Regions from separate parts of the Homo sapiens genome. Here region 1 is linked to region 2. The links come from fine-mapping of genetic effects on gene expression. A gene starts in region 2. The other region holds a variant in brackets. All regions are shown on one strand. Distances are from middle to middle. Region 1 overlaps SCIN (scinderin). Region 2 holds the start of SCIN (scinderin).

Evidence for each region. PIP is the estimated chance that this variant, and not a neighbour inherited with it, causes the effect.
Region 1: its variant is the best candidate, but not a certain one, in a credible set for the expression of SCIN in minor salivary gland (GTEx, PIP 0.52).

The regions. Positions count from the first base shown.
Region 1 is chr7:12,616,946-12,621,349 of GRCh38, reverse strand. The region is part of intron 4 of SCIN (scinderin); the gene reads right to left. Among named protein-coding and RNA genes, the nearest start is that of SCIN, 48 kb to the right of the region's middle. The variant A/G (reference allele first, on the strand shown) is at 2,688.
Region 2 is chr7:12,568,827-12,573,230 of GRCh38, reverse strand. It overlaps SCIN (scinderin), which reads right to left and starts at 2,511. Exons shown (of 16, transcript NM_001112706.3): 1 at 2,246-2,511. The coding sequence starts at 2,444. It overlaps LOC107986768, which reads left to right. Exons shown (of 3, transcript XR_007060635.1): 3 at 1,850-4,404.

The DNA of each region.
Region 1 (4,404 bases), 48 kb before region 2:
GTTGGGAATTGAACCCAAGGGATTTAGCAAAAACAGGCTTAACTCCAGAGGTAGAGAGATGCCATATATTGTCAGGTATCATCTCTAAGGATCACTTTAAAATTGAGCTCAACTAAGCATTTATCAAATATTTGAGGTCACTGGGGTATATAAATGAGTTTCTAACCATGTTGTCCAACACTTAAGGGCTTTACATCTGGCGTAGAAAGAGCAACATAACTAAATATGTTCACTTTATCAACTAGGCCATACATTTTGATCTTTGACATAAACTGTAAACACAGCTTGGAAGATCATGCCTGAATGTGAAACATTTTCATTTTGGGTTGCCCACGCGATTGGCATTTAGCTCATGTAATCCTTTGTATGTGAAATAACATATATTTTGACAATTTAATGGGGTACAAACACAGAGAAGCCTCATTTGAAGGTGTTACATAAAAATTTCGTCAGTTGTTCTAGCCAAGATGTATCTTGCAAGTTTGGAGCTCCTCTTTCAATTACTTTCTGTAAGTTTCTGTTTAAAAGTATTGCCGTCATCTAAATACTCCAAACTGAACTTATTTTCTACAAAATTAGCCACTCTCAATTCTCCATTTGTGTCAATGTATCTCTATTCTCTCCTCTTTATATGGACTTAAAATTATGTGGTCAGTTTTAAATACTTCCTCTCCTCCAATTTGGATCTCCTACCCACTTAGTCATTATTATTATTTTTAATCATGGTTAGTCACTGATTCCTGTTTATTCCTGGACACTGGCTGCAAGGCCCCTTATTTCACATTACTCCTATGTTGTAGGAATATGACTCTAGATCAAGGAAATCCTGTCATTTGCAACAACATGGATGAACCTATTGTATATTATGCTAAGTGAAATAAGCCAGACACAAAAAGATAAACAATGCATGATCTCATTAATATGTGGAATCCAAAATATCCAATTCATAGAAATAGAGTGGTAGAATGGTGATTGCCAGGGGCTGAAAAATAGAGGAAATGGAGAAATGTTGGTGAAAGAATTCAGACTTTCAGGTATAAGATAAATAAGTTCTGGAGACAAAGTATAGTATGATGGTTACAGTTATTAATAATGTAGTTTATACTTGAAATTTGCTAAGAGAGAAGATATCAAAATATTTTCATCACACACACACAATGTGAGTTGACAGATGTTAATTATATTGATTGTGGTAATCATTTCACAACTTATACTTCTATCAAAATATCACATTTTGTATATGACATTTTGTATATGACAAAGTTTGTACATATATGTCTATCATTTGATAGATATATATGTACAAACTTTGTCAATTATCCCTTTATAAAGCAGGAAAACATTTAAAATTTATTTTTAAATTTTAAAAAACTAAAAAATAAAAAAGATTTATATTTTACATCTGCTGCAGTGGTTCCTGAACTTCAATGTACTCAAGTAACACCTGTGTTACTTTGTAAATACAGATTCTTAGCTGCCAGCCATTGAGTAAATAAACAGGTCTATGGTGAGGCCCAGGAATCTGCAATCTAGATTATTCTGAATTGGGTGCTCCCACTGACCCAAAACTTCTGTCTGAAACCCAAGTCCCCTTCAGATGCTGAATGTCATCTACCCTGCCTTATTTCTCAGCATTCCCTACCTTGTACCTGTCTCTAATCAGGCTGACATACTCGGCATTCCATATGGAAGCCATGCCCATTCTTTCCCCGTAGCTAGCTAGGAGATTAATAATCGACCAGCTTCAGAGTTTCTCATGACCTGTCTCAAGACCACCCTTGGTGTTTGTTTATTTCTTTCCCTACTATGATCCAAGGTGAACTTTTCTTTTTAAAACTTAAGCAGGCTTATGTGGAAATTTGTATTTTCAGATAAAAGGATCAGGCAGCCAAGAAACAATTGCTATACTCTTTTACTCTCTTAATCCTTAGTTTTTCACAGCATGTACCTCTGTTTTTATTTATTTATTTATTTTTTACCTTTTAGTCAACTTTACCTACTTTGGATAAAAACTTCCAACATTTACACTGGCTTGTTCTCAAGATGTGGTTTCCCTTCTTTATACAAAAAAGTCAAGATGTTTGGCCACTTTAGAATAAATATTTGTAATGCATCATAAGAAAACAATAATGATGCATGACCTTGAAGAAGCACAATATGTAACTCAAAGCTACATATCACTGTGGATGAAAATGTGCCAAGCTGGTGCCAAGTCCTAAAGGCATTTATCATTGAGGGTCTTATGTGCTCCCAGCAGAACTCTGAGAGAGAGGCAGAACCTGTATCATGATTACTTTAACTTCATAGATTAAGAAAATGAGCCTGAAGGAAGTTAGGAGTTTTGCCTTAGATCCGTGTCTCATAAATATTAAAGCAAATATGTAAACCCCAGGCCTTCTAACCTCTACTTCAAAGCTCTTTATATAGAAAATGAGGCATTTCATTCTTCTCATCTTAATCATTTTAGGGTAGATGACTCTGTTTTATTTTCACTAAAAACAGAATCAGCTCACAGGTTCCAAGAATGAACATTTTAATTTGTAAATTCTGTATCTTACTTCTTTTCCTTAACTGAGAAACAATCAGTAGAGTGTAACATAGGGAGCATAGAAATAAATTGTAAGAGTGAAGCTAATCCTTGTTGTTATGGTATATTTACTTGCTGCAAGGCATTTTATGCCTTAGGT[A/G]AGACAAATATTTGATATTAGGGAAGATCCACAGAGATATAAAATGACCAGTTATTCCGAGAAAGCTGTGGTCTTATTTAGCCAGCTCCACCCACTCTGGATATAAGATTCCAACATTTACTCTGCTGCTCTCTCTCAGTGATGGCCTCAAAAATACCTTTATTCCTTTATTCATAAGTAAAATAGAGGGTGATTTCATATATTAAAGAATGGATAAAGGTATTTTAGAGGAGGGAAAGCATGTGAGGTATTTTAGAGGTAGGAAAGCATATTTGGATAAAAAGACAAAGTGAACTGGGCTTCTGCAAGAGATTTAGCTATAGCGCAGTGCTGTCCTGTAGAAATTTCTGCAATGATGAAATATTCCACATCTTTGCTGTCCCACACAGTTCTCACTAGCCATTTGTAGCTAATGAGTACCTGAAATGTGGCTAGTGTGACTGAGTAGCTGAATTTTACATTTTATTTAATTTTAAGGAATTTAAATGTAAACTTAAATAGTCACTCATGTCTTGAGGATGCCAGACACAGAGTGCAGCCCTAGAGGCCTCAGGGAATGCTGTGGCAGTGGGGAACTTATCAGGCAGGACTGGACTTCAGCATTCCTAGAATATCAGCGTATTAGAGGATAGATGTTGAAGGGTCAAACTCATAAGAAAATTACCCCAAAAGTTACTATAATATGGAAAGTTACCTTACAAGTTACTATAACACAGAAAGCAAAATCACAAGTCATTAAAAGCCATAAGCCAGAATGCCAACTTATTAAACAAGAGCAGTTGTTTTCACTGGCTGCATATTAGAACCATCTGGGCTGATATAAAAAAGAATGCCAATGTCTGAATCCAATCTCTAGAAATTCAGATTTATTTATTCTGATTGGAGCCCATGCATTGTATATTTGAAAAGCCTTCTAGGCCTGCTTTGGTGATGTGATTCAAGTGCTCTGTGGCATCAGCTTTGCTAGCCTGGTTTATCTACCTCAACCATTGGGATAGGTCTGCCAAGCATTTCTGAGGTTCACATTAGCTTGTTAGAACACATCTCCCCTGGACAAATTATTAGGGCCTGGTGGTCTGAGAGCTGCTCTGGGGCAAATCTCAGGTATTAAGATTTCAGGTCATTTGCCTTTTCTAGACATCACCAAACCTTTTTCCCTAAGGCTTCAAACCCACTTTGGACATTTCTGTCTGATCAGTGCTTGGATGAACGCTTCCGAAACTTGCCTTTGGGGTTCCTAATTTCTGTGCATTCTTCCATTGTCTTTTTGACACCTCCCTTCACTTGGCAGGATCAGGCAGGCTGAGCTGGGTGGAGCCGCTACTAAGAGTCTCTGTAATCTAATTTCCACACTTAAAATGGTATAATAAATAATATGGCTCAATTATCATGTGATTATTACTATGACTAGCATATGGTGAAAATTCAACAAATGGTAGATCCTGTACCCTTTCTTCACCTTTACATATGCAGAGTCAAATCTTTCCCTGGTCAAAGCATTACTCTTTCTGTCTTATACAACCCTGCAAATTACTGGACTAATCCTTTGCATAATGATTTTACCACTGGACTTCTTGCCACACACCTCCTCATGGACTTACACTTTATTATTTGTTCACGTACTGATCTAATGATTTTATAAAGCAGTCTATATGTCTTGGTAATGTACCTTTGTCAAAATCTTATATCTTAGATTTAAACTACAAATTGAATATAG
Region 2 (4,404 bases):
CTCTCAATCTGTCTCTCTGATGAATCCTCATGGATTCATCCTAATTTAGGTCTTAGACTACACTATTTTGGATGAAATTCTGTTTTCTTAGGGAACTGAAGTAGGAAGAGCTGTTGGGCAATCCCATCTGAAAGTCCTGTTGACTATTTTACTTGAAGCTTTTTTTCTCTCCATAATTCTCTCTTGACACAAGAACACTTCCAAGTACTCTCATTTTTTTTTTCTCTAAAGGCTTCTGTTTCCCAATAACCACAGAAACTTTGTGCTTTCACAGTAATTATCACATTCTACCTGTGTTATATCACTTTTTGTCTTTTTGCACCTTTGAGGTGATGAACTTTTAGAGAAGTTTCATTAATTATTCATATCCACAAGTGCCTTGTACAGTACTGGCCATATTGAATAATTACTGAATGAATTTGCTTGTTATTAACATGTTATTGACTTCAGTTTTAGCATGTCTTTAAGATTATAAATGTTTCTGCCCAAACCATTTTCTATTATATTTTTGAAATTTATGGGCATCAAGTGGATAATTAAGTAGATAATTAAGTGAATAAGGTGAATCTGTAAACCCTACAAAATATAGTAGTTAAGAGGACAACTTGGATAAAAATGTATAGAATTAAAGAATTGTGTTCAAATCTCCCTTGCGGTCATCTGACAAAGTCAAACTTAACTGCTGTCTACAGTAAGATATGGCATTATTTCACATTTTAATTTACTCAAATGGCAAATGTGGCATTTCAAACACTTTCATTCATGCTAGATTTAAGTTCTGCATGGAAAGTCCTCTGTAAGGACATCATTATTCTATCTGGCATCATTCATTCTTGAACATGGGTTATAAAAGTTTCAGTCTTTTCTGGCAGAAAATACAAATAGATGACTGTGTATTACAACATTATAATAGGAATAACAGCAATGCATCAAGAAGCCAAAATGTGTTCAGAACTCAGGCTGAGCCTTCTCTGCCTCCTCAAGCTAACACAAATTTTTGACTCCAAATGTTATAATTAAAAGTCTTATCTTCATCTACGTATTTTTCATTTCTCATTTCTCAAATGCCTGTTCCAGGTGTTTGCCAATGTTTAGACAGTCACTACTCAATGTTTTCTATTATTTTGTTTCTTAAAATCTTCAAATGTTGGAAATTACAGTGTTGGCTTTCAGGGACTCAAAAATGTGTAAGTGTGTGTGGTTTTGTGTGTTTTCCTCCTAAGCTCAGGGATAAAACTAAACAAACACGAGTACTGGGCAGGCTAGCTAGTTTTAAAAGAAGGCAAAAAGGCTCAGAGAATCGGCATGTTGTTAGACAGGGTGTGCCCACTGGCACAAGACCTCCTGGGGAGAGGCTGGACATTCAGGATGTTTATGAGTAAAAGTAGAAGGTGGAAAAAGAACACACAAGGCCCAGTGTCCTGACAGCCTGGCACGAACGCAGCTCAAAATAATTACTACTGCTGAAGGAGCCGTTTCTGTTCCATCTTGTGTCCTTGCTAAAATAAATAATAAATAATAACAATAAAGCAGTCTACATAAATATATGAAATACCCATATAGAGCTATTTATTTGTATATAAAATATCTGTATTTTTTTCTTACTTCTATCTGAGGACGCCAGCTTCCGAATGAAGCGGAGTTTTTGTCTACCAGACCCACAAGCAGCATGGTGCGGGTAGAATCCTGTTTTAAAGAAGCCCAGAACAATAATTCCCGCAATCATAGAGAAAATAAGCCAGTGCCCGAAAGCAACAAATAAAAATAATGTGTGAAGAAAAAGAAAAGGACTTCTTCCTAGCGGCGGCAGATGCCCCCAGACTTTATGACTTCCTCTCCATCCCGACAGGGAAAGCAGGACTGAGTTTGTCGGAAGGTGAGCGGGGCTTGGCCAGAGACGGTGTGCGCTGAGGCAGCGGCCCTGGACAAGAGTGGCGTTTGGATACTTGACGGTGAAAGGGGAAGAAGCCAGTCACCAGCTCCAAAGTCCAGGAACTACACCTGGCAAAGGTCAAAGCCTGCGAGGTAAGTCAATTGCGGACAACGCCTGAGCCCCGCGTTTGCAGCCGGCGAGTTGACTTCGGTAGGGAGAAAGTGGCCGGCCCCAAAGGGCAGCCCCGTGGGGGCGCGAGTGGCTAGCTCAGTTTGCGGTCCCCTTTACTCCCACGCCTGCAAATCTCAGACCCCTACGCCCTCCCCTCGCCGGCCTTGGTGCGTCGGGGTCCCGCCGCCCGCCGTCCCTTACCGAGCCAGAAGTGCAGGTGGTAGGTGAAGCCTCGGCTCGTCTTGGCCGTGTGCAGCACCAGGTAGGCATCCCCGACGTAGAAGTCGCCGTGAGCGCTCTGGGGCACGGGCACCAGCTCCAGCTTCTCAATCCTCCAGACCTGCAGCCCCGCCTGCTTGCCCGCCCGGGCGAACTCTTCGTGGTATAGCTCCCGCGCCATGGCTCCTGCACGCGATGCTCCGGGGGACGCGTGATATCGCTGATCTTGGACTAAACCGAGAGCAGCAGGAGGAACCTTATTCGCCGCCACTTTATAGTGTTTGCCATCCGGGGAGGCGGCGCCCTGAAACGGGAGGGGCTAAGTGCCCAGGCGCGAGTTGACAGAGGAGACGATCGCTTCCCACGGGGAGCGCAGCGCTGGCTTCCAAGCTCCCACGCCTTGCCCCAGGCCAGGAGCGGAATCGGCGTCCCAGAAGTCTTGAGATTCAGAGGGAGTTTATAGTAACTCGTGCCAATGCCTCCTCCAAGGAAAGACATTTTCTCTAGCAATAGACGAAGAACATTAACGGTTAAAACTGCTTGGCACTCCTTTGTGCATACCCATCACTACCGTCCTGCATATTTCCCCTTCTCTCGCTAATCCTCTTATTTCTGGATCTCAGTTGTGCCTGGCAGGAGGGGTGAGGTGAGGAAAGAGCGCGCCAGCCCTGCAGAGTTGAGTCAGCGTTTACTCGGGTGGAGCAATACCTGTTCTTTCTGGCCCTCTAGAATAATTCTTAGAACAAGGCTTCCTCTGCTAATAGCAACACCTGCCGTTAGGCAGCAGAGGAGTGTGCCACATTAGCATGCTGGAATAATTTTAATACATCCTTCTTTAAAAAATGGGCTTTTTGAGTAACAAGCATCCTAATGATCAATTCTGTCATTTCATTGGGCAATCTCTGCATTCCTGACGACCAAAGTTTCTGTCTCGATCTTCCAGTTTGAAAATACCATGAAAAACAGCATGTCAGATTTCTTGGACAGGAAGAAAACCTGGAAGAATGGCAGTATTACCCCAGGTGACAGAGCTCTGTAAATCTCAGAGTTCAGGAGCTGTGGTTGAGCTCTCTTAACACCTGCTTCCTTTGGCCAAGAAAGATGAAAACAACAACAAAAACCCAGCAGCCGCCGTCCTGAGATGTTCTCTGCAGGGCTGTTTGTGGCTGTAATTTTATGCTTGGCCGGACTTCTGGGTTACCTGTTACCTAGCTTCAAGGTGATAATTTTCTTTGTTTTACCTACAGGTTTTGCTTTTGCAGCATGGCTAAAACACTATGGAATACAGATGGAAATTTTACTCTTGATTTGGCATTCATTTAACAAGCTGGTATAGCAAAGGATTCTGTTACTGAAAAAGGCAAATCACTCAGGATGTATAGAGTAAGAAAGCTGAATTTCATGCATGTAAAATTGTTTTCATTCAATTTCTCAAATTACATGAATCCCTGGAAGGTCAATAATAATGCAAAATTAGATTTTTTTCCTTAATTAAATTATGTTTTTAATAGGTTATTACATGACCATGGTAAAAAAATTAAAAGTACAAAATGTGTGCAATAAAAAATTATCTCCATTTCACCCTGCCACCCAGTTGCTTTCCCCAAAGGCAATTACGTTACCAGTTTCTTATGTATTTTTCCAGGCACTCAAATTTTGTCAACAAGAATATAGGTAATGTAGTTATTTTAAATTTTTAACAGAAAATGTAACATATAACCTTTTCGAATCCCCCCCCGTGTGTGTGTGTGTGTGTGTGTGTGTGTGTGTGTGTGTGTGTGTGTCTGTGTATCAACACACAGTACTCATAGAGCTACCGGTTTTTACTGACCATATGGTATTCCACTTTATAAACATACTAATTTATTTTGTCTATCTCAGTTCATAGTGTAGGGGCCAAGGGAAAACTTCCCCTCTACCCTCTGAAGTTTCACTGAAAAATCAAGTCACAAAAGGCAGATTAACAGGACAAATGGCATACAAATTTATCAGCGGGCATGGGGGAGAATCACAGAGTGATTGGCCAATATCCCAATGAGGTACAGAGGGTTGTACCTCCTTATTAGAGGAAAGGCAGATGGGTGATGTATGGGTGATTTGGGGGGTTAGAAAATGATTTTTAGGGGAATTCAATGTGTTTG